7 linked regions of the Homo sapiens genome follow. The protein of the gene in region 1 purifies or fractionates together with the protein of each later gene. This does not show direct contact. Each region holds a gene or a part of one and is shown in the gene's direction. Other genes may lie near its edges. The genes, in order: CCN6, LRP6, PASK, BRAF, NOTCH2, SCARB2 and SORL1.

Region 1 (4,294 bases):
CTGCACATTGTGCACATGTACCCTAGAACTTGAAGTATAATAATAAAAAAAAAAAAAGAAAAGAAAAAGATCAGATTGGACCAAAACAGACACATTTTCTTCACTACTCCATTATCTGGTTTTGTCCTATTTCTTAGGGAGGCAAGATAAGGCGTTGGCATCCTAACTGCAGTGGGTATTCCTTGTTGTTTGATGTGCATATACTTACAGTTTAATGACTCCTTAGTAAGCTCTGTGTGATCTGCAGGTTTTAGGGTGTCCATGGTTCTCCAAGGACACCAGATTCTCTGTGGTGGAGGACAGCCTCGTTTTTCCCAGGCCCTCAGCTCAGGCCTAAGCGAGGCTTGATGTTGTCTTTATACAGTAGTGACTGCCTTGAACAGTAACAAAGGTGAGCAATCGGTATAGGATAGGTAAGGCAGCAGGAAAAGGAGGGATAGGTAACTGATCAAAGGAAATAGAAATAGGCCTTGGGATGGGGGCAGGCAGGTGGGACGCCTCAGGGACCTGAGAGGGACAAAGCACCACGGCAGCTGCAAATGAAGATGGGAACACAGACCCAGGCTGAGAACATGGAGAAGCGAAGGTCCCACATGATGACACAGGAGGAGATGCGCTGGTGGTCACACCTTTCAGGGAGGTGAGTATGAAGAAGAGGAGTACAAACCTGTCAAAATTTTATTTTTAATCTTTTTTTTTTTTTTGAGAATAATTCTCACTCTTGTCCCCCAGGCTGGAGTGCAATGGTGCGATCTCGGCTCACTGCAACCTCCGCCTCCCAGGTTCAAGCGATTCTCCTGCCTCAGCCTCCCAAGCAGCTGGGATTACAGGCGCCTGCCACCACACCTGGCTAATTTTTGTGTCTTTTTTTTTTTTTAGCAGAGACGGGATTTCATCATATTGGCCAGGCTTATTTTTAATCTTAATTCATTAAATGAATGATTGCTACCAGTGTAATTGTTTTATTTTAGGCCCGGAAAAATGGAGGTTAACTTCATTGTCATCTGTCATGGAACTGTGGCCACAAAAAGAGGCGTCTCTCAGGCCAGGTACTGTAGGAGTCCGCCCCCTGCTCCATCTGTATTTTTTCCACTCACAGTCCACCTGGCATGAGAAAGGTGTTGGGATAAAGGTGAGCCCAGGGCACTGTGGGTGCCTCCGAGAGAATCTGAGCTGGGGGAGTCAGGGTCCTTCGAGAGCCTGCCATTAATATGGAGGGGGAAAGCCAGGGCTAGGCTGCGATGGGTGCTGTTGGTGGGGGGGCCAGGCCTGCACTCTGTACGTGAGGGTGAAGCTGGAGAAGGAAGCAGCCTAGAGAGGACCCGGAGCAGGGCAAACACAGATGGAGAAGCTGAGGGCAAGGAAGGGAATGACGTGGGACCCCACCCGTTGTCGGGGGCAGGCTCTGCTCTCCAGGAACAGGTAACACAGTCACTTAGAGAACAGTCACTACTTGCCCTGCCCTCCTGAGTCCCGGGAGGAAAGTGCTCGCCCATTCCTGACCTGTGACACGCTCACTGCGAAGGCAGGTTATTAGAAGAGTCCCATGAAAGTAAACAGGGTATTAAAACGGATCCTTAAAAATGAAAGTGCAGGCTGAAAGTTGGTAGTGTGGGAGGTAGAGGGTGTGTGTTCTTGTGCAGAGGAGCGTGGGGTTTGCAGAGGAGACAGGGGAGCTTTGTGTACCCGGAGCAATGAACAAGCGGCGACTTCTCTACCCCTCAGGGTGGCTCCACGGTCCCAGCGACATGCAGGGGCTCCTCTTCTCCACTCTTCTGCTTGCTGGCCTGGCACAGGTAAGTCCTCTCCCCCGACTCTTTCCCTTCCGGAGGCTATGGCCATCCTTAGTTCTTCAGGCCCAAAACTAAACAAAACGAAGATGGAGGAAGAGGGAGGATCAATGGCTTGTGGAACTACTTCATGAGAAATAGGAAGCCATTTTTCTTTCCAAATAAAGTTCTGTGTTCGTTCATGAGCTTCATGAAAGAAATGTAAAACATTTCTCCCTTTCAGGTAATGGCACCGAAGCCTCCTTTCGCTATGTTTGAACAGCGCCACGCTTTCCTATATATTTTTATAGCAGAGCCTAAGGCACAGCCTGGCACAGTGCGGGAAACAGTGTCTCTCCATGCCAGCTCCAGGCGGAGGCTCAACTTTCCATTGCTGTTTGCAAAATGTGCAAAGAGCCCCTGGAAAAACGAATTTTGACAGCGACTTTTTCCAGTTAAGTCTGTCCTTCTTTGAAAGGGGCACTTTGGAATAAACATTTACATTTTTAAAACATTCTCTTACTTTGTCTTTTCTCAGTCCATGTGTTTCTCACTTCCTGAAAGGGAAGCAGTCCATGGAGGCTTGGAAATATTTCAAGCAACAGACCAAAGGGAAGTTTAACTTACTATGAGCAATTCATTGCCTTAGTCTTTTTAAATAAGAAGATGAAAACAAGGTGACTTAATTGTTGATTTATTTACACGGTAGACAGGAGACAGAGCTTTTGAAATCTGGTGATTTAGGAAACATGGGTGTGTCTGTGAGTTAGTAGTTGATTGGGGCCATAAGTAGTAGATACATCTTAGAAAACAAGGAATTGCAAATTGTTATACCATATAGAGAGAGATTTACGATTTCAAAAGAATCATGACAAGAATGTCAGTGGTCCAGGTCATTGCTGCTGTTCTGTGGAGGGGCTCACTCCCCTGTCTGTGTGCCTCCTATTCCACTGTTCTTGAGAAAAAGCCTGTCATTGTGGATTGAGAGCAGCTAGATGTTCTTAGACAGCAGGTATTCCAACACAGAGAGATGTGTACAAAATAAACAACAACAAACACAGAAAGGTGTTACACAAAGAGCGGTAAAAATGGATTATTTTGTGCTTAACTTTGCTTTTATGAATTCATAAATTCATGAAATAGCTGATAATACCTAGCATTTACTGAATAGCTGCTATATGCCAAATACTGTGCTGGGTGCTTTATTTATTTATTTATTTATTTATTTAGAGACAGAGCCTTGCTCTGTCGTTCCAGGCTGGAGTGCAGTGGTGCAGTCTTGGGTCACTGCAACCTCCACCTCCTGGGTTCAAGCGATTGTTGTGCCTCAGCCTCCCAAGTAGCTGAGATTACAGGCCTACACCACCATGCCTTGCCAATTTTTGTATTTTAGTAGAGATAGGGTTTTGCCCTGTTGGCCAAGCTGGTCTTGAACTCCTGACCTCAAGTGATCCGCCCACCTCGGCCTCCCAAAGTGTTGGGATTACAGGTGTGAGCCACCACCTCCGGCCCAAGGGTGCTTTAGTTATTATCTTAATTATCAAAACAACTTTACAAGGTGGTCATTATTAATCCCATATTACAGAGGAGATCAAATGATGGGAAGTTCTGTAAGATCACAGAGCTGTTGCAAAGCTCGGATCTGTTGTCAAAATGCTTATTCTTTCTATTGCACCATTCTAGTGATGCTTATTGTCCTGAAATTTTGCTGTTGAAAACAATCAAAATATGCCTGAGGAAAAGTGAAAAATATAAGATTCTTTATATTTACCCACATATTGACTATGTCCAGGCCTCTTCATTTCTTCCTGTATTTCTAAGTTACTATCATAACAGAAGATCTTCAGACCGAAGATCCTCCTTTAGTATTTCTTGTGAGGCAGATCAGCTAGCAACAATTTCTCTTAGGTTTTGTTTACCCAGAAACGGTTTTTATTTCACCATCATGTTTGAAAGACAGTTTCACTGGCTATATAATTCTGGATTGACAGGATTTTTTTTTTTCTCCGTTTAACATTGTCTCTGGGCATCTTGTTCTTCTCCATCTCTCCCTCCTCCTCCTTCTTTTGATGAGAAGTCAGATCTCAGTTTTATTGTACTTCTGTATGTAATGCTTCCCCCTTTTCTCAGTCTACTGTTATGATTTTCTTTATTTTGAGATGGAATCACCCTCTGTTGCCTAGGCTGGAGTGCAGTGGCGTGTCTTGGCTCACTGCAACCTCTGCCTTCTGGGTTCAAGCGATTCTCCTGTCTCAGCCTCCTGAGTAGCTGGGACTACAGGTGCACGCCACCACACCTGGCTAAGTTTTTGTATTTTTAGTAGAGATGGGGTTTTGCCATGTTGGCCAGGCTAGTCTTGAACTCCCCGCCTCAAGTGATCCACCTGCCTCGGCATCCCAAAGTGCTGGGATTACAGGCTATTTCAGCTTCATTTTTGAAAGATGGTTTCACTGGCCATATAATTCTGGGTTGACAGGTTGTTTTTTTTTCCTTTCAACATTGTCTTTGCACATCTTCTTCTCAAT
Region 2 (3,500 bases), on another chromosome or scaffold:
AAATTGCTTTTTAACAACAGAGAGATGCTTTCAGAGCTGGGAAAAAAAATCCATATTTAAAACAACTTCTTTTTATACTTAAGAAACACACTTTGCCTGTTCTCCTTACTCTTAATTCCCTATAGAGAGAGGGCACGTTGGAGAAAGTATACTGATTTAGGACATTTTAAGGGACTTCCAGTTTGGAAGAACACCAGTTCTTCTGTTTTTCTTCTTAATGAGAATGTTATTCTTCATTCTCACCCCTATGGATCACCATCTGGTTCTCTAGCAACCAGCAAGACCTGGTAAGAAAATTGTTGTATTTAGCTGTGGCTTCTTTATCTAACTCTGAAAAGCAGAAGCCTGTGTTTTGGAGTGTGTTAGAGTCCCTGGCAAGGGGGCCAGGGAGTCAGAGAGATGGAATTGAGTCTGTGTACAGGATGTTTGTTATGACTTGGCATTGATAAATTATCCTCATAGTAAAAGGTGAAGCTGGCTGACTCTTGGTCAAATGGTTTCCATGGCAGACAGCAATTTGGTTTCAATTTAAAACAAAAGGTTTTTGTAATGTTGCTTTTTTCTTTAAAAATGTAGCCTGACTTTAAAACAGAGGATTTATTTTAGCAATAATGGTCTATCTGCTCCCTCACAGCAGTGCAAGTGTACATATTTAACCAGTTTTGAATTTCATGTGTGCATTTGGCATGTAGTAGCCTTAAGTTAACTGTTCTGTTTTGATCACCTTGCTCAAATTAACAGCTCTATGACTTCTTTGTGAAGTTCTAGGCTGGCTCCTTTTGGTTGTTAGCCGGGGCAGTGAATTGTACAAAGTTATTCCTACTTGGTTCCTGCAGTGGCATTTGGGCTGTATTTTCTTCAAGTTGGAATTCATTTATAATTAGCTCTAGAGTGAAAGGGCTGATATTGAGAGGCTTCACTCCTCTTCTCAGTTTTTTGACTTGTAATTGCAGATTGATTCTTGAAGTTTATATGCCAGTATTTTGTTTTGGACTCATTTATTTAGCTGGGAATCTTTTCTTATTCTTTCAGTTGTCAATTTGCTTACTGTCTTTTATTAGCTTCCTATAGTTAGACGATTTTTTGCTGGTGGTTTACTTGAACAATTTAAAATGAAAAAAAGATTGAGCTCAGTATCTTCATTCTTGGTTATGTGGTTAAGTATTTGGGGCTTGGGCTTTAAACAGTTCATAAATAAACCTAATTTAAAATTCAGTGAAATAAAAATCTGAAAATCTTTATTTTTTAATACTGTTGTTAAGTATTAGTTAATATTTCTTGAGTACTTAAATGTTCAGTACTTTCCTGAGTTTTAGATTTATCTCCTTTAATCCTTACAACAACCTTACAAGGTATAGATGGGGAAACTAGGCTTAGCGAGATTAGATATTTTCCCAAAGTTTGTGTAGCTTCTTGAATCAAATTATATTGGATCCACAACTCTTAACCACTGTGTTATGTTTATCTGGTTCCTTCCCTCCATTGCAGCTGTTTGTTTCTCCATAGCTTGCTTTGTCCTCAATTCTGTGAGGTATTGCCCTGTATTTCTCTTTGTTAAGACAGTTTTACTGAGATGTAACTTACATAGCATATAAAATCCATCCATTTTTTAAATTGTACAATTCGGTGACTTTTTAGTAAATTTACAGAGTTACGCAGTTATCACCACAATCCAATTTTAGAACATTCCTATCAAGCACAAAGATTCTTGTCCTAAATTTCTTTATCTTTTTTTAAAAAATGCTTCTTGAACAAAGGATCTATATCCTACATTTCCTTCTCCTTTAATACTGAGCTACTTAGCTTCTTAGTCATTACATAGTCATTATTCATTGTACTTTTAAATAGCTGGATTAATTCCAATGAAACCATAGAATGTATCACAACTTAATTTGGAGAGTTAGCCATTAAACAGCTTGACCTCAGAGTAGACTCTTCTATTTCACTGTATTACTTTCCATTTCCACTCTAAAGAGAGTGCACATCCTTTTGTGTTAATTTATGTATATTTTATATTTATTTTTCAGTTCTTGATTCTTTATCTAGAGCAGGTAAATTTTACCTCTGGGTTTCAAAGTATTCTTCATTTCACTTTGTTGTTCTAGGTGCCACAGAATTATTGCTTTTAGCTCGAAGGACAGACTTGAGACGCATTTCTTTGGATACACCAGATTTTACAGACATTGTTCTGCAGTTAGAAGACATCCGTCATGCCATTGCCATAGATTACGATCCTGTGGAAGGCTACATCTACTGGACTGATGATGAAGTGAGGGCCATACGCCGTTCATTTATAGATGGATCTGGCAGTCAGTTTGTGGTCACTGCTCAAATTGCCCATCCTGATGGTATTGCTGTGGACTGGGTTGCACGAAATCTTTATTGGACAGACACTGGCACTGATCGAATAGAAGTGACAAGGCTCAATGGGACCATGAGGAAGATCTTGATTTCAGAGGACTTAGAGGAACCCCGGGCTATTGTGTTAGATCCCATGGTTGGGTAAGAAGCTCTACTGATAGTAAATTCTGTGTGGTGTTTCTGTTTTTCACAGGTTCCTGAAAACATTGACTAAGATAACATGACATATATATTGGTTTCCAGTAAACAGCTCTTTAATGGCTGTCTATTTTAGGATATGGTGATTAGAATACAATCTCAAGTTTAAAAATTGCTAGTTTTTTGCCTTGGATGTCTTAGATATTTTTTCTTTCTAAATTAAGTCCATGTTTGCTGACTTTGGGTGTTGTCTGCAGATTTTGCTCGGATTGCATCATTACCATGAAAAATGTGGGAAGAAATTGTTTTCAGAACTCTTTCCCTTCCCCTAGAAGCTTTAATTCCATTTTCAGTACTTTATAGTAAGAATATAGCTTACTTTTTTTTCCCTAAATACATGAATGACTTGATTTCCAAAACTTTGCCAGCCCATGCAGCTTTACTTCTAGTTTGTTGTTGTTGTTTGTTTTGTTTTGCCATGCCACCCTGATCATAGTCCAGGGAAGTACAACTTTTTACATACTCAACAATTTTGTTACTTTGAGATTTATTCTGAGGACAAGCATAGTGACAAATTACACCTCAGTATATACCAATGCCTTAGAGCCATCTAAACATCCAGGAGCCGTAAGAATCACTTAGCACTGCAGGAAGAAATAGTTATTTTGAGAATTCAGTTTGCCATCTGACTAATACTGCTGGGATAAGCCTTTTGTGTCAGAGAGATGACAAGCCATCAAGGAAAAGAGAGAGAAAGTTCATGGAAAAGGGCACACAAAATATTTAAAAAAAAAAAAAAAAAAAAGAAGTAAAACTGTAATCTCATTATTGGGAGGCATTTTCAGGATTGGCTCTAGAACACACTGATCTGAAAATTTCCCACAATCTTATATATTGCTGGGATAAATGTCTTAAACACCTCTTCATATGTTTTTTTTTTTTTCCCCTTCCTTGGCATTAACTGATGATACCAGTGTAATAGGAGGGATGGATCTCACCTT
Region 3 (2,937 bases), on another chromosome or scaffold:
TAAGTCAGAAATAGATAGCAGGTGTTTTCCACTAACACCTACATGTATTTTAGAGAGGTGTGGTTGGAATGCATCTCTAGGTGAGTTCATGGTTAGAGAGTCGGATGATCACAGCACTGCTTGGACCCTCCTGGCCCTCTGCTGCAGTGCTCTGCTGCACCGCCCATATCTGCTCCATGTGGTTCTCTAGGAGGGAAGCTGATGCTGCCCCCACAGGAGAGGCACACGGGGTCCCTCACAGACCTGCTGCACCTGACCTGGTGGCCTGAGGCCAGGGCATTTGCTCGCAGTCACGCACGAGCTCCATGCCGTGCCTTGGGCTCTCGGGAGGGCCTCAGCATTGGGGAGAGGAGTGGCTGGGCTCTGGATCCTGGTGTCTGCTTAGGCCATATTTCATTAGGAGGTGCAGGTTCCAGGCTGCACACCCTGAGTCCTCAGAGCCCAGCAGCCTCAGCCTGCGCCAACCTCTCCATGCCAGGCAGCGTTGAGCTCTTCTGGGCCTGGATGCCCTGTGTGCAGAGTATGGAGGAAGTGAAAATGGGCTCTTCCCCGCTAGAACCTCCATGCATCTTCAGAGCCACCAAACAGCGTGAAATATCGAAGGGGGTTGGTCTAAGAAGGGCCGTGGAGTTTCCCTTCAGATCTAGTTTGGTTGCCCTAGAGCCTGGTGGGCGCTGGTGGGCTCTGCCTGCCCTGCAGTGGTTGTCGTGCCCTCCGTGCTGGAGGGAACTGCCTGTCCCCTGTCCACTGACCCATGATGCCTGCTGCATGGCTTGTCACCCCTTCCTGTACCCAGGCCGTGAAGCTTGGGGAGGGTGCAGGGGGGATCCAACCTGGGCGAGAGCTCAGTGCTGCTTGGCCACCTTGGCCCTGCCTCCCAGAGCTGTGGCTCCCACCCTCTCCCTGAGCGCCTGCCCTGCCAGGGCTCTGCCCTGCCTCCTGGCCTCTCCTTTCTGGCTGTGAGCGGTGTACTGCTCCTGGGCCTGCGGGGCTGCAGGCCTCCTCTCAGGAGCTCCTTCCTCCCTCCTGCGTCCTCTCCCCATCTCCCTGGATGAAAGGGTTTCTGAGTTCTTATTCTCAATCCCATCCTCAGGGCCCTGGCTTCTGTCTTGTCATCTTCATCTCCGTCTACTCCAGGGTCGGCAGACTGTGGCCTTAGGTCCCTCTTCCCCTTCCTCAGGCCCTGGCAGCTGCCATTCTGCTATTTTCTCTATGAATCTGACTACTCTAGGGACCTCCTATACGTGGAATCGTACAGCATTTGCCTTTTGGTGACTGGCTTATTTCACTTTGCATAAAGTCCTCAAGGTCCATCCATGTTGTGGCCTGTGCCAGCATCTTCCTTTTCAAGGCTGAATTTGATTGCGTTTTCTGGATATGCTGTACTTATTCATCTGTCAGTGGACATTTGTGTTGCTTCTACCTTTTGCTTCCATCTTTATGTTGTTCGTGATGCTGCTACAAACGTGTGTGCAAACATCCCCTGCCTCTTGTTTCTATAAATAAAGTTTTATTGGAATGGAGCTGTGCTCATTTGCTTATGTGTCGTCTGTAGCTGCCTTTGTCCTACATGACAGAGTTGAGTTGCAGTGGGGACCATGTGGCCCAAAACCTGAAATATTTACTATTTGACCCTTCACAGGAAAAGTTTGCCAACCTCTGTTCTGTTCTATTGGATATTTCTCTTCAGCTTCTAAACATCTTGAAATCTCTCTAAAAAACAGAAACAACACAAAAACAAAAACTGCTGAAACTGATTTTCTTGCTCTAGCCCCTACAGCTCTCATCCGTCCGCTCAGCTTCCCTGCGGTCTGTGCTAGCCACCCCACCACCCTGCTGACTCAGCCTGGGGGCCCGACTTTCACCCACGCTGCTGCTCTGGCCTCTGTGATCTGCCCTCTTGAGCCCTCCCCTCCCCTCCCCTCCCCTCCCTCCCAGCCCCTCTTCTCCGAGTCCAGCCCGGGGCTCTGTCCGTGCCACTCTTCTCACTGCTGTGGTTTCTCTTGGCTCCCTTGTCTAATTCTGGTTCTGAGAACAGGCTGCTGCTTCCCAGACCTCTTCTGGGGACAGACCCCCAGCTGCGGACCTGGAGACGCATGGCCTTGGCCAGTGCAGGGGCAGGGCTGTGGGTGCTGGTGACCTGGCTCTGGTGCGTGCTTGGCAGCAACTTCACCTCACCAAGCCTTGCTCTTCTGTGCAAAATGAAAGTCATATTTATCTTGCTAGGTTGTTGTGAGGATTTGGGTTAAGCCATGTAAAATGCTGGTACAGCATTGGCATCTCTAGGTACCCAATAGATGGTAGCATGGATGAGGATGTTTACGGTGACAGGAAATAAATGGTAGCATGGATGAGGATGTTTACGGTGACAGGAAATAAATGGTAGCGTGGATGAGGATGTTTACGGCGACAGGAAATAAATGGTAGCGTGGATGAGGATGTTTACGGTGACAGGAAATAAATGGTAGCGTGGATGAGGATGTTTACGGTGACAGGAAATAAATGGTAGCGTGGATGAGGATGTTTACGGCGACAGGAAGTAACAATAGTCCTTTGGGTGTCTTCTCCCTGAAGCTTGCTCCTCCATTTGGCCCACTGTGTGAACACCCACCTTCACCACGTCCTTCTTGTTTGCTTTCATCCTTCGGTGTTTTTCCCTGTTCAGTCTCGTCCTGCAGCACCCTTCACATCGTCGCCACAGCCATCTTCCTAAAGGGCATGTGTGTCCATGGTCACACCAAGCCCGTTCACACCAAGATCGTGAACATGCCTGATCACGTCTGAAGGGCACGTGACCCTGTTCTGAAGTGGCCTGCAGCTCCCGTGGCCCTCAGCAAAGCCAATGGACGTGTACTCTGCTTCCTCCAGGAAGCCCTCCCCCCGCTCCCCCCTCTGGTAGACACGTCTTGTGGTTGGTGTCCACAAGGAAGTTCCTGA
Region 4 (3,500 bases), on another chromosome or scaffold:
GTGTTCAGGTGGGCCTTGTTTTCATGTATGTATTTTTATACATAAAAAAAGGTACTGAAGAGGCCAGGCGCAGTGACTCACACCTGTAATCCCAGCACTTTGGGAGGCCAAGGTGGGTGGATCAGTTGAGGTTAGGAGTTCGAGACCAGCCTGGGCAAAATGGTGATACCCGTCTCTACTAAAAATACAAAATTATCCGGGCGTGGTGGCACACGCCTGTGATCCCAGCTACTCGGGAGGCTGAGGCAGGAGAATCGCTTGAACCTGGGAGGCGGAGGTTGCAGTGAGCTGAGATCGCGCCACTGCACTCCAGCCTGGACAATAGAGTGAGACTCCATCTCAAAAAAAAAAAAAAAAGGTACAGAAGAAAGTATAGACTCTAACAGTGGTTATCCCTGGAGAGCAGGATTTGAGAGCCTTATACTCTTTATACATTTCTATAGTATTTTAATTTTTATTTGCATGTTATACTTGGAATTTACAATTTTTTGCAACTGCTTACTTCTTTGTCTTATACTAATCATCATAAAGATTACTTTTTAAAAAAAATTTAACTTTTAAAAACAATTTTCAGCCAGGCATGGTGGCTCATGTCTGTAATCCCAGCCCTTTGGGAGGCCGAGGCAGGCAGATCACCTGAGGTCAGGAGTTTGAGACCAGCCTGGCCAACGTGGTGAAACCCTGTCTCTGCTAAAAATACAAAAATTTAGCTGGGCATGGTGGTGCGCTCCTGTAATCCCAGCTACTCAGGAGGCTGAGGCAGGAGAATCGCTTGAACCCAGGAGGGGGAGGTTGCAGTGAGCTGAGATTGTGCCACTGCACTCCAGCCTGGTTGACAACAGCGAGACTCCGTTTCAAAAAAAAAAAAAAATTGGTATCTCAGGACAATAACAAAAGTAATAATAATAGCTGCTAAGGTTTTATTGAGTGCTTATTATAGGCCAGGCATTATGCCAAGCCCTTTAAACATGTTTCATGATTATGAACATGCATTATCATGCTGTATGCCTTCAAGGATTATAACCTGTTTCTTTGTGCCTTAAAATTGTGAATTTCTGCATTTTATATATTGGGGTCTATTTGTCGAGTTCTCCTATCTTTGCTCTTGGGTTGTCCCCTGTCACTTCTCATGTGCTACTAGCACTCTGGGTCTGTGAGGTTCTGCTTTCAATTAGGTGTATGTAAAACATTTCCCATGGCTAGGTTTCTTTAAAGGGCAAGTAGCTGTGATAATTCTGTTTAGAGATAGTCATAAAGTGCTTTACTTATTTATACTCCATCTTCTTCCCAAAAGAGACTTGTGGTCTATAACAAAAAGGTATAAAATTGGTTTTAAATTTCTATTATTTACTGTTTCAAGACTAACAAATGATCTAAAATATAAATAAAAGCTGACTAAGAATTACTCTCCCCATTTAATTTACAGAGAGAGTTTCTTCTTAAGAAAAAATACCAATTATTTACAAATATTTTCCCAAGCATTTATGACAATGCTGAAAACAATGTAAGATTTCAGGTGCTTTCTTGTAAAGTGTGATGGGACTCTTAAAGATTTATACCACCCAGATTTTCATTCTTCTTTCTGTTTTTTCTTTTTCTTTCTTTCTTTTTTTTTCTTTTTTCTTTTTTTTTCTTTTTTTTTTCTTTTTTTTTTTGTAGATTCTCGCCTCTATTGAGCTGCTGGCCCGCTCATTGCCAAAAATTCACCGCAGTGCATCAGAACCCTCCTTGAATCGGGCTGGTTTCCAAACAGAGGATTTTAGTCTATATGCTTGTGCTTCTCCAAAAACACCCATCCAGGCAGGGGGATATGGTGCGTTTCCTGTCCACTGAAACAAATGAGTGAGAGAGTTCAGGAGAGTAGCAACAAAAGGAAAATAAATGAACATATGTTTGCTTATATGTTAAATTGAATAAAATACTCTCTTTTTTTTTAAGGTGAACCAAAGAACACTTGTGTGGTTAAAGACTAGATATAATTTTTCCCCAAACTAAAATTTATACTTAACATTGGATTTTTAACATCCAAGGGTTAAAATACATAGACATTGCTAAAAATTGGCAGAGCCTCTTCTAGAGGCTTTACTTTCTGTTCCGGGTTTGTATCATTCACTTGGTTATTTTAAGTAGTAAACTTCAGTTTCTCATGCAACTTTTGTTGCCAGCTATCACATGTCCACTAGGGACTCCAGAAGAAGACCCTACCTATGCCTGTGTTTGCAGGTGAGAAGTTGGCAGTCGGTTAGCCTGGGTTAGATAAGGCAAACTGAACAGATCTAATTTAGGAAGTCAGTAGAATTTAATAATTCTATTATTATTCTTAATAATTTTTCTATAACTATTTCTTTTTATAACAATTTGGAAAATGTGGATGTCTTTTATTTCCTTGAAGCAATAAACTAAGTTTCTTTTTATAAATTTTGAGTGCAGGTGACCAAAAATATTGCTGAGGAGTGGCACGTTTGACATGAGTAAAATGTCTTAACTTCGGATTTTTAGCGGGAAAATGTTATAAATTGGAGTTTCTTTTAAATAGCTTTTTTTAAAATACATTAAGGATGTCTCGCTCATGTAGAAGTCAAATTTTGTTGCAAACGCATTGCTCCCTTCACACCCAATCTCTCCCCTGCAAAAAATCTTCACAGAATTCTGTGAGAACTTTTAGGTGTGTTTTTCTTTGAGATACCTCTGGTTGCCAAACACCAGGTAATAGATTTTTTAAAGTTGTTATTAGATTATTCTTACCTCTCATGATGCATATTTTAGCAATCACCTTATCATTGTGTCTCATGTTCTGTCCTCCTTATATTCTTTGCCCAGCAAGATTCTACTTATGATGAATGAATGCTCTTCTCCTTTTTTCATTCAATGGTATGAAGTATTTGTTAGGGTTCTTTAGTACTTACACTTTGTTGTGTAGAAAATGACTGTAATGTGGTGGTCAGTGTATTCTTACTGTGATTCAGAGGGAATCAAAAGTAGAAAGCAACAGCACGTGGTCCTATCAAAGATTTGGCCATCTCTGCTTCACTGTCAGCCTCTTAACTATATCTTCACTTACTCAATTTGGTTTTGTCATGATTTTTAAATGTAGCCAATAGATCAAGGTTCTTCCAGTAAACACATATCTGCATAAATGCCTCCTTGAAGTCAATAAAGAAGGAAATTGAGAAGACTTTAAATTAATGATAATTTAGTTTTTAAGTACCCACAAATAAATTTTTGAAACATTTTCTTTATTTGAATACTTAGATGTCATCCAGGAAAATCACTCAATAATAATTACGGCAAATCTTTAACCCCTCATTTGGGTAGCTTAAGATAAGTAATGCCATTATGAATCAGAATTGATTCATGACTTTAGTTAAGAAAATGAAAAGGAACATTTCACGTATTTTTAAAAATGATACTAAGGAATAAAGAAGTACAACTATTGGAAAATATCTAAGTATATGATTTTTAAATCCTCCAGTGGCATTAAATATATGATTATTAGTAAT
Region 5 (3,500 bases), on another chromosome or scaffold:
AAGAAGGGGCACAGGATTGCTCCTCTCACAAAGACACTTGATAATACTGTCCTTGATAGGAAGAAGGAAGTGGCTTCAGATCTGAAAGGATATGCTCATAGGCTTGAGACGGGACAAACTGCATCACTGGTAGTGGTAGGAGGTTTGCCGTAGATCTGTTTTTTCTCCTGTCTCTCTTTTTTGAGGAGAATATTATCTGTATGGCAGAACATACGTTGTGGTCTTAAAAAGGAGAGTAAAGCCAAGAAAGGGGGATGATAAAGCCATAGCTTGGAATAAGAAAAGCAAAGGAATTATTGTATTAACTTGTGTATGTAAATACATAGGTTTCCATGTAATTCACTGGTAGGATCACTAGCCCTTGGCACTAACATTTGCTATCTTTGTAGCTCTGCTGTCTTAGTGGTGTATTGGGGGAGCATTGTGGTGTGTTGTCACACTTAATTTGTGTGCTTCCCTTGGCATCATGTGGTAGCAAGTACAGGGTATTCTCCTCTTCTAGATGTGTGGGAATCATTGACCAAGTAGAAAATATGGTCCTGCTCCCAAGGAGCTGACATCATCATGGAGACAAGACAGATAAGCACACAATTAGGAATATGAAATACAGTTATTTTATCATTTATCTATGCTCTCTGAAAGCAGTTTCCTGCAGTCAGGGTGACTCGGAGCTATAGGGTCTTGGGAGTAAACTTCAGGTCTTAATACCACCAGGGAAAGGCGACCTCCAGCTCACCCTTGCTGGGCTTGTCTGCTGTCGTGAGCTGTCTGCCATTTTCCTCTTTCTGTGTTGTAATTTAGAAGTATTAGAACTTGGCTTGGGGAAAAGACAAAAACCCCTTTGTCTGGTGAGGGTGTAAATATAAATTTGGCACATGTTGTGGTGTCTATTATGTCTGTTAGTGGGTTTGCGGCAAGAGAGAGTGCTGTGTTCTTAGTCCCGAATGCCAAGCCTGAACTAGGACAAGTTATGGTGGAGATATCTTCCTTGGAAGATGCAGTTCTCAGTGGCAGTGGCTGAAGGAACTTCTCGTCACAGCCAGGCAGTGACTGAAGTGTGGTGTGGACACACCCAGAGTTGCTGCCTCAGGTGGCATTGATTAATCATACTAATATCTCCCTCACCCTTTTGTACTTGTCTTGGCAAAACCCTGTTCTACTAGCTCCCCAATAGTTTGGCCTTTACTAGGTATGATTGAACAAGCTCTTGGGGGTTCACCTTAGTGTCCCTTGCCCCTCTCGCATTTCCAGCCAGCTACGTCGCTCCAGCCATGGTACCCCGGGTCCTCTGGCCAGGCAGTGAGGGGCTGGGTTTTTCTTCCCATTGGACTGAAGCACCTTTCCCTGGAGGCTTGCCTAGGGCAGTTTCTGGTCTCCGAGTCAGTTCCTTCTGCAGGATACTGGCAGCTGGCAGAACTCTGGGTTATTTGAATACATCAGCCAAACATCTTGCCAAGATGGACTCATTGTTGCATAAAGACAGGTTGGATCTATGGGTGTTGCAGAACCTGTTTCTGGGTTAAGAGTAGCTCTCTCACCCTTATTATATATGTTTATTCATATGATGAATGTATGTGTGTATTTTGTGAAGTAAGGAAAACATGATGATAATATTGTGGTTGGAGTTAGATACCTTATCCTAAATATGTTGTCTTTTTAACAAATAGCATTCCTTTAAAATACAGTTGTGCTTGATGAATAAGGTGTTGTACAAGAAGCTGTGGTTACATTCTAAAATAAACTGCCTTGTTCTGAGGCAGGCACGTTTTAAAATTGTTGTTTGCTTCTTTTTCATCTCTTTTTATTTTCATCTTTTTTTTTGTGAGAAGATTCTGTAAGTTTTTAAGCTTCAAATATTTTCAATAATCTATTTTAACGGGTACCTAGCAGGGAGAGGTTGTTCTATTGGTATACCTAACCAACATTCAAATAAGAATAATTGAATACTGTTTACTCACTAATCTGTTCTGTTGAGTTTCTAAGTATGAATAATCACAAAACTAGATAGTGCTGATATATCAACTTCTCTAAATGGTAAATGTGGTAAGTAGCAAAGACATTTTTGTTTAATTCTCTCCTTACACATGCTTTGGTTCAGACGCTGTCAAGACACATTGAAGTTTGAGGACATGTGTATTTCGATTATTTTATTATATTTTTATTTGCTGTGAATATGGGTTTATTTATTTGCTAGATCTTCTTTAGTTAGAAACATTAAGGGCATTTACTTTATTACAACATTTAAAGTGCATTCTAATCTTCATGAGGAATTTTAGGTAAAAGACCGTATCCTGAGATTCATGCAAGTCTTTGGCATTATGTTACTATTTAAAGTAAGTAATATGTAGTGGCTTCTCTGACATATTCTTTCTAAGAGAGTTAAGGAAAATAGTTGTAACTAAAAACAAACATTGAAACAGTTTAAGGTAGGTTTACGTAGCAACAGAATTATTCGTTATGTTTACAGATAATTAACTCGTATTTATACTTTGCTGATTTTCTCTGGCACCTTTACAAGATTTTTTTATTTTTGTAAAATAAAAAGTAATTATGTTTGAAAAAGTAGTTAAGGATGTTTGAAGAATCTAGAAAAGCATAAATAAAATGTCCACAATCATGCTGCCATTAATTTTTTGGTATACGTCTTTGGTTTTTTTACCCTTAGATTTAGAAAAGCTGTTGATTTATTTTTATATATATATATATATATATTTAGTTTATGAACAGATCTACATATATATATATGCACACACACATAATATACTATTGTCAACACTAGGTTTTATTTTTAAAAATCTTTACCATTTGATAAGTGGTAAATATTACTTAATCTTAATATGCCTCTCTCATTACAGTGATATTGAATGTTTTTTCATATCATCAGTGGCGTTTGTATTGCCTTTTTTTCTACTTCTTTTGGTAAATTGTGTCTTTTACTCATTTAATTATTTTCTTACTGGTTTGAAAAAGCTCTTTAAATATTAAGGGTGTTAGTCTTTTGTCTTAAATATGTCACAATATGTATGGAAATAATTAGCAGTATATAACATAACATCAAATTGCTACCAATGTTGATATAAAAATTGTTCATTTCATAGGTTAATTTTTTTAATCCTTTGGTTTCTAATGATATTGGTTAATTCATTTGTTAACTGCTATTTTCTGTAGCTACTTGAAAGTTCTTATCTGACTGTATCGTAAATCAGCATGCTTTCAGCTGTATATGTCTAGGAAATTGACATTTACTTTAATACTTAATAAAAAAATATGTTGGAGAAAAGCAGTGTATTCTGGAGTCAAATACATGATTTTGGGTGGGTGACGTAATCGGCTACTGTCCTCCTTTTCTAGATAGCCAAGATTTTTGAAGCATTTAACATCCCTGAAAGGCAGGACTAATGCTATGTCTACCATGCACTGCTAATTCTGACACTTTGACCTAATGGATAAATGCCAGTACAGTGGGTCTAGCCAGTTAGCTTGGTCAGAGAACAAGATGA
Region 6 (3,500 bases), on another chromosome or scaffold:
ACTGCACTCCAGCCTGGGCAACAGAGTGAGACCTGGTCTCAAAAAACAAAAAAATTATATATATATAAAAAATTGTTTATATATACGTATATCATATATATGTGTATATATACATATATATATACAACTGACAAAAGTATTTTTCATCTTGAAGACTAGTTTTAACAGCCACATGTATATATTTATGTATGTATATGTTAATATATTTGTTAATATATGAGTATATTAACAAATTTTATAGTTATATATAAATATGCATATATTTGCATATACTTATATTTGCTATATTTTAATATATATGTATATAGTATATATATATAGGTATACACACACACGTGCGCAAGTGTGCACACACACTCATGGTGCACACACATGCATGTATGTCCCAGGGTCCCATGTTGGATATACCAGGGCCCCAGAATCTACACTTTTAACAAGTACTCCAGCTGATTTCCATAAAGATGGCGTCTAGGTATTTGGGGACCATTGTGCAAGGGAACATGGTACCCTTTACCTGGAGATAAAGACCAAGGGTGAATGGGAACAAGTTCCTGGTTGTGATCTCCCCCATTGCCTTACTGGTAATAGTCCTGAAACAGTGTCCCTGCCCCCTCATCTGGTGTGCATCTGGCTCAAAGCAAAAATGTAGATATATTTTCTCTTGCTGTTTTTATTAAATTCTGTTTCCTTAAGAAGCTGATGCCAGAATCAACAGAAGTATTCTACTTTACACATTTAAACTTCTTGCTACAATCCTTTTCCTCTTCCCTCTTAACGTATTCCCGAATTTGGACTGAAGTGAAACTCCCCAGGATTATCCTCCAGTGTTTTGAATTCTCCAGGGAAACATTTTGGATAGCAGGATGAGTGTTCTGGAGTCAGGCAGATTGGGTTTGAGTCCTATTCTATTTGTTGGTAAATTGGCCAAAGTTTATTAAGGAGGGTTCCAGACATCAGTTTTCTCATTAATAAAATGGAGGTGGTTATAGCTTCTTGAGGTTGTGTGAGAGTTAGAAATAATATATATAAAACACTCAGGACAGTAGCCCCTATTAAGCCCTCAACAGATTTAAAAAATACATTTTCAAGGTCATTATAGGTCACAAAGAAGGAAGTCATGCCTTTGTGGAACTATTCAGCAGTAAACAGCAAAATGCATGTGCATGTGAGAGATGAGGGATGAGTTCCTTAAGCCATGGGCTGGTGAATATGTAAGCAAATTTAAATAACTTGCCGACAAGCTCCTTTCTCCAAAAATGTATTTCCCTGGCAGCAATTGTTGGGTCCCTCTCTTCTTTTCAATAGCCAGATCTAGAATAGGTTTCCTTTAGTAACTTGTTTCCCTATTTGGTTATATATATATATATATATATATATATTTAAATTTACATAAGCACTTATTTGGTTCTTAAAATGAATAGGAAAGGAAAAACCCCAGAATCTTTGTGATCTGGTTAGAGGCTGGGTGTATAGCACAACCAGGCTAACTCTTAAAAAATTATGTAGGCCAGGTGTGGTGGCTCAAGCCTGTAATCTCAGCACTTTGGGAGGCTGAGGCGGGCAGATCACTTGAGGTAAGGAGTTCAAGACCAGCCTTGCCAACATGGTGAAACGCTGTCTCTACTAAAAATACAAAAAAATTATCCGGGTGTGGTGGTGCATGCCTGTAGTCCCAGCTACTTGGGAGGCTGAGGCAGGAGAATTGCTTGAACCTGGGAGGCGGAGGCTGCAGTGAGCTGAGATTATGCCTGTCTTTGGTAAAAACAAAACAAAACAAAACAAAAAACCACCAAAAATTTTTTTTTAATTTTAAAAAGGACAAGAAATAAAAAGTCAGTCCACTTACTGATAGAGAATTGTAGTTGAAACTAGTGCTTTGAGGTACAACACCCTTCATTCACTTAGTATTCTGCCTTCATAGCCTGATGGCTAGCTGTCCCTGGGTAAATTTTGTAACTTCTATGAACCTCACTTTCTTCAAATGCAAAGTGAGGCTAATAGTTCTGACTTTACTGGGCTGTTGGGAGCATTAAATAAAATAATGTGTATGAAGCACTTATACTTTAACTTCAGTAAATATTTGTTGAAGAATAAATAATTTAGCCTGAACTTCAATATATAATGTGGAATAAAAAATTGGGGGTAAATGAGATGTCAGAAAATGAAGTATAAATCCTGAACTAGGAGGTAAAGGATGGTGTTTTAGCCTACCCAAGTTAATTTATATGTAGCTTTTTTGTTTTTCTTTAGGAACCAGGCTGTGGCCAGGAACTTTTATATTCAGCTCAGCTTAGATTTTAAAAACAGCATCATTCATTTCTGTTTTCCTTCAAATGCAGGTGCACCCATCATTATGTCTTTCCCACACTTTTACCAAGCAGATGAGAGGTTTGTTTCTGCCATAGAAGGCATGCACCCAAATCAGGAAGACCATGAGACATTTGTGGACATTAATCCTGTGAGTACATACTTCCTCCTGGTAAAAGAGCATATGTTTTATTCTGTCTATACATTGTTCACCAGTTTAGTCCTGAGCCTTCTTTAAAAATATCCTTACTTTCATATACATATTCAAGTGGGAGAAATTCAGCTCAGTGCTGATGGAGGCATTGTCTCATAGCCCTGTAATTAGAAGGCTGAATTTTGTGGATTGAATAGCAGAAATACGAGCAAACCTGCCTTTAACAAAAAGCAACAGTGAAAACTCAGTTATTGGAAACTACTGATGTACCCATATAACCTGGTCAATCTTCTGATGCTAGCCTTGGACCTCAACATATATTTATTTCTCCCCTTGGGACACAGATCGATAAGGTTAAAGATGTCCCTTTGCTTCCTCACTGCCAGGAATATTTTGGTTGAAATATGAATATGTATATTAACCTCAGTCACTTTTGGCAAACTTCTTTCTACAGGTTATTTGAGAGTTTATTATATTATTAATTGTAAAGGTATCAGATATACATAGAGGAGACATACACACGTGTGTGTGTGTGTGTGTGTGTGTATAATACACATTTACTCCTGTATTCATAGACGAGAAAAACAAAAACCATGCTAACCATGTCTTCATTTTTGGAATTTGAACATTATGGACCAATAAAAAAAAAAAACAAGAACATTCTTTTAGCACAGTATTTTATGGGTACTTCACACTCTTAGCTGCATACATTGCATTTGTATCTGAGAAACCAGTGATCTTATGCTCTGGTGAATAAAATCGTGTGTGGTTTTCTCCCTTTTCTCTTAGCCATCAGCTGATCAGTTCCCTTGGATCAGCCAAACTGTTAGCAGTGCTTGTCACCAAGGGACGAACACAGTCTTATAACCTTAGTGCAAAGATGGAGCTGCCCTAAGGATGACAAGTGCTGCAGCTGTGCCCCATGGCTACGCTAGGCGGGCCCTATACTAGGATGCCACTCTCTGGCAGTGACCACCACCCTCTTCTTAGCTCTCTGGACAACTGCCTGGAAATCCAGACCTGACAGGCTATCTTTTAG
Region 7 (3,500 bases), on another chromosome or scaffold:
TCCGCATCAGGCTTGGAGAAGCAAGAGATGACCAGCCTGGCTGACGGGAAGGAGCAAGAATATGAGTCCCACCTGTGGACTCTTCATTGCAAGGCTGTGACATTGAGAATTTGTTTTATGGGAGTGTGGAGTCATCGATTGCCTTGGAACGTGGAGTGACACGGGATGGTGAAATAAGTAAATGCTCATTTGCTTATTTACTTATTTGAGTAATTTACTTATTGATACTGCTTTGTCCAGATCATCATGCCCTGGAAACTGGGGCTTACATGGTTCTAGCTCCTCTTTCAGACCACTTGAAAATTGTCCCATGAGTCAGAGGAAGGAACAGCGCATTGTGACTAGAAGTTGGGGCAGGTTTCGCAGATGGGTCAGGTCAGGGAAATAGGCAGGCATGGAGGGGGCATGTCTGTAGCAGAAGCTGAGTAGCCATCTTTGGCAATGGGGGTCTTTAAGGAGCTCCGATCCATCTCAGCCTCTTTTCCCCCTGTTTTTGTCAGGTAGCTAATCCAGATGGCGACTTCCGACTCACAATCGTCAATTCCTCTGTGCTTGATCGTCCCAGGGCTCTGGTCCTCGTGCCCCAAGAGGGGTAAGTGTTGCCCCAAAAGGAAATCAGTCTTGCGTCCAATGCTACACTAATAGATTCTCATGGAAACACAGACTGCGGGACAAAAACTCTGTTTCTCATGATGGTGGTTGAAATGGTCTATTAACTGAGAAGTTTGAGACCACAGCTTAGTCATCGTGGTCAGGTAACTCCGTTCGCTTTTTGTTAGCCAGTGTCAGAGTCTCTTTAGGCATCCAGATGTCTTGCATCTGTGGGTTGTTTCTCTAGAAAAGTTGATGTTAAAAGAGAGCTTCTGTAGACATAGACAGGCCTGCTTGGATATTGTGAGAACTTTCTCTTGAGTTTCATGCATGGTACAAACATTTAATTCATTCCATCTTTCCCCTGCCTTCCCAGCATGTGTAGGTTTTCTTACGTACAATCAGTGTGCACTTGGGGAAGGCAAAGGTGCTTTTTATTAACTCATTAACTGAAGGAAACATAATTAAGAGGGAAATTCTGGATTTGACATTCTGGCTTTTCCTCTCTCGTAGCATTTATGATAGAGAATTGGCACAATTTTTTTCAAGGAAAATTCTAAGAGTAATGTATGTACTTGGTTGACAATATTTAGAGAGAACAGCACTTTATGAAAAAAATTTGCATTCTTCCTTTTCATTCTTAACCCTTTACCCTCACACTTCCTAGTGGTAATCATTGTTAATAATGTCTTGTGTATCTTTCATGATTGCTTTTACTTATGTACAAGTATTATCTTTAAAACACACACATATACACACACATGCACGCCAAATAGGATTGTAGTGTAGTTACTATTCTGTACCTTTTTAAACAAACTTAATATGTATTGAAAATAGTTCTGTGTGAGCATATATAGATTTTTAGGTTTCACAGTATTCTATTATATGTACCATAATGTGTCACTTCCTCTGCTGATTAACATTTAGTTTAATATACATACATATACATTTCTTTGTATATTATCTTTGCATAATTTGATTTTATCTATAGATAAATTCTAGTAAAGGAATTTCCAGGTGAAGGAATTTAAGTAGTTTCAGGTGTTGTCATTACATATTGTTATAATAATGCTGAAATAACCAGCCGGATCATTCGAAAGGAGTTTCTGACCTTTTCTGGAGTAGTATTTGAGCTCCCATTTCTCTAGTATTGATGAGGTATGTGTTCTGTCCCCATTTTCGCTAGGGTGATGTTCTGGACAGACTGGGGAGACCTGAAGCCTGGGATTTATCGGAGCAATATGGATGGTTCTGCTGCCTATCACCTGGTGTCTGAGGATGTGAAGTGGCCCAATGGCATCTCTGTGGACGACCAGTGGATTTACTGGACGGATGCCTACCTGGAGTGCATAGAGCGGATCACGTTCAGTGGCCAGCAGCGCTCTGTCATTCTGGACAACCTCCCGCACCCCTATGCCATTGCTGTCTTTAAGGTGAGTCCATTTGTTGCTGCCGGACAGTCTGCTAGAGCGGGTGAGGAGCATATGAGATCAGGAGCCTGCATCCCTGGGCTTTGCAGAGAAGCTGTTTAACTTCTTAAAGGTTGCCTTTTTTCCAAATTTGAGATAACTTATTTTCAGCCTATGGAGGGATGCCAGGCAGAGGCGCCAAGGGTCCAGGCTCCCCTGCTGTTCACATTTCAAAAGGTTAAAAGTGAAGGCTCTTCCCATGAACATTCCCAGTTTGCCCCTCAGTGTCAGTAGCCTCATTTCAGGGTGGTGTCTTCATTTTTTGTGCGCTTTGCTCACTTTATTCTCTGATGACTTCCGGTGAGCTCTGCACCACCTATAGTGCCTTGCAGTTCTTTTTCGACTCTGGAGAGCAACATGGCTCTTCCCAACTCTGGGAAACAGATTTCAAACTGAGGGGGTTGGGTTTGTGTCATAAACTTGAATGCTTATCAGATAGTTTCTTTTGGGCAGTTTCTTCTGTGGGGTTATATGGTGAGGTTTGGATAAAATTGCTGTCCTTTGCATTTAAGTAGAATCTTGATCAGGCTAGTCATTCAGCCAATAAATGTTAGTTGTCTCCTGCCTGGGGGAACTCTTACCCTTAGAGAGAACCAGAATAAAGAACGAAAGAGCTGGACTAATGGGCAAAGGTTTTCTTTTTAGAATGAAATCTACTGGGATGACTGGTCACAGCTCAGCATATTCCGAGCTTCCAAATACAGTGGGTCCCAGATGGAGATTCTGGCAAACCAGCTCACGGGGCTCATGGACATGAAGATTTTCTACAAGGGGAAGAACACTGGTAAGCCAGAGTCTCTTCTTTTGTCTCTGTAGAGTTGATCTCAAGAAAGGGGCTGCGTGTGGCCAATCTCTGCTCAGAGTAGGAGCTGGCAGCCTGCATCTTTGTTGTCACGACAACATGCACATTATTTAATTTCTTCCTAATGACATCTTAATTTCTTTTCTAATGATACACAAACAGCTGGAAGACAGCATGCTTTTGCCTGCCTAGAGTGTTGGTGCTTGGTGGGTAATTACACCCTCCTCCTGCCCTTGGCCCCTGACTGATTGGTGGCGCGGCTTCTGTTGCAGCTGGGAGAGTCCTAACATGTGCTTAATCCCTGTTTGGCATGCTTGCAGGAAGAGACTCTGTGCTGGGTGCTCAGATAGTTGTTGCTTCCTGACAGGGCCTCTTGCTTGTTCTCTGGTTGCCCAGATGACCTATTGCTCATTGACCGTACCTACCTCTGCTGGAATGGCACTGTGTAGTTAGGTGTTGTTTTAATTAACTTTTCCCACCATGAAACCCTAAACCCCATGAAGAAAGAGATGGTCTTTTTTATTCCCCGATAGTTTTACCAGTGTCTAGCACTTTGTAGGTGCTCAATTCATATTTGTTGAAAGAATAAGGGATGAAAAGGGAGGGGAAGAATTGCAGTGGGTGCAGACAGTAGCTGT

What was found.
Region 2: the proteins of CCN6 (region 1) and LRP6 purify together in Homo sapiens (affinity purification with mass spectrometry; one large-scale study listed by BioGRID and IntAct). This does not show direct contact.
Region 3: the proteins of CCN6 (region 1) and PASK purify together in Homo sapiens (affinity purification with mass spectrometry; one large-scale study listed by BioGRID and IntAct). This does not show direct contact.
Region 4: the proteins of CCN6 (region 1) and BRAF purify together in Homo sapiens (pull-down; one large-scale study listed by IntAct). This does not show direct contact.
Region 5: the proteins of CCN6 (region 1) and NOTCH2 purify together in Homo sapiens (affinity purification with mass spectrometry; one large-scale study listed by BioGRID and IntAct). This does not show direct contact.
Region 6: the proteins of CCN6 (region 1) and SCARB2 purify together in Homo sapiens (affinity purification with mass spectrometry, with the first as the bait; one large-scale study listed by BioGRID). This does not show direct contact.
Region 7: the proteins of CCN6 (region 1) and SORL1 purify together in Homo sapiens (affinity purification with mass spectrometry; 2 studies listed by BioGRID and IntAct, with this or other methods). This does not show direct contact.

The regions. Positions count from the first base shown.
Region 1 is NC_000006.12:112,052,610-112,056,903, forward strand, and holds the start of CCN6 (cellular communication network factor 6 isoform 1 precursor), read left to right. Parts: upstream 1-1,494; 5' UTR 1,495-1,725; coding exon of another isoform or gene 1,726-1,748; coding exon 1,749-1,796; intron 1,797-4,294. UniProt on the Homo sapiens protein: Plays a role in mitochondrial electron transport and mitochondrial respiration. Through its regulation of the mitochondrial function may play a role in normal postnatal skeletal growth and cartilage homeostasis.
Region 2 is NC_000012.12:12,180,045-12,183,544, reverse strand, and holds part of LRP6 (low-density lipoprotein receptor-related protein 6 isoform b precursor), read left to right. Parts: intron 1-2,105; coding exon 2,106-2,502; intron 2,503-3,500. UniProt on the Homo sapiens protein: Component of the Wnt-Fzd-LRP5-LRP6 complex that triggers beta-catenin signaling through inducing aggregation of receptor-ligand complexes into ribosome-sized signalosomes.
Region 3 is NC_000002.12:241,108,536-241,111,472, reverse strand, and holds part of PASK (PAS domain-containing serine/threonine-protein kinase), read left to right. Parts: intron 1-2,574; coding exon of another isoform or gene 2,575-2,774; exon of another isoform or gene 2,775-2,937. UniProt on the Homo sapiens protein: Serine/threonine-protein kinase involved in energy homeostasis and protein translation. Phosphorylates EEF1A1, GYS1, PDX1 and RPS6.
Region 4 is NC_000007.14:140,732,930-140,736,429, reverse strand, and holds part of BRAF (serine/threonine-protein kinase B-raf), read left to right. Parts: intron 1-1,659; coding exon 1,660-1,833; 3' UTR 1,834-3,500. UniProt on the Homo sapiens protein: Protein kinase involved in the transduction of mitogenic signals from the cell membrane to the nucleus. Phosphorylates MAP2K1, and thereby activates the MAP kinase signal transduction pathway. Phosphorylates PFKFB2.
Region 5 is NC_000001.11:120,059,663-120,063,162, reverse strand, and holds part of NOTCH2 (neurogenic locus notch homolog protein 2 isoform 1 preproprotein), read left to right. Parts: intron 1-3,500. UniProt on the Homo sapiens protein: Functions as a receptor for membrane-bound ligands Jagged-1 (JAG1), Jagged-2 (JAG2) and Delta-1 (DLL1) to regulate cell-fate determination.
Region 6 is NC_000004.12:76,168,825-76,172,324, reverse strand, and holds part of SCARB2 (lysosome membrane protein 2), read left to right. Parts: intron 1-2,339; coding exon 2,340-2,458; intron 2,459-3,500.
Region 7 is NC_000011.10:121,556,814-121,560,313, forward strand, and holds part of SORL1 (sortilin-related receptor preproprotein), read left to right. Parts: intron 1-500; coding exon 501-592; intron 593-1,777; coding exon 1,778-2,024; intron 2,025-2,705; coding exon 2,706-2,844; intron 2,845-3,500. UniProt on the Homo sapiens protein: Sorting receptor that directs several proteins to their correct location within the cell. Along with AP-1 complex, involved Golgi apparatus - endosome sorting.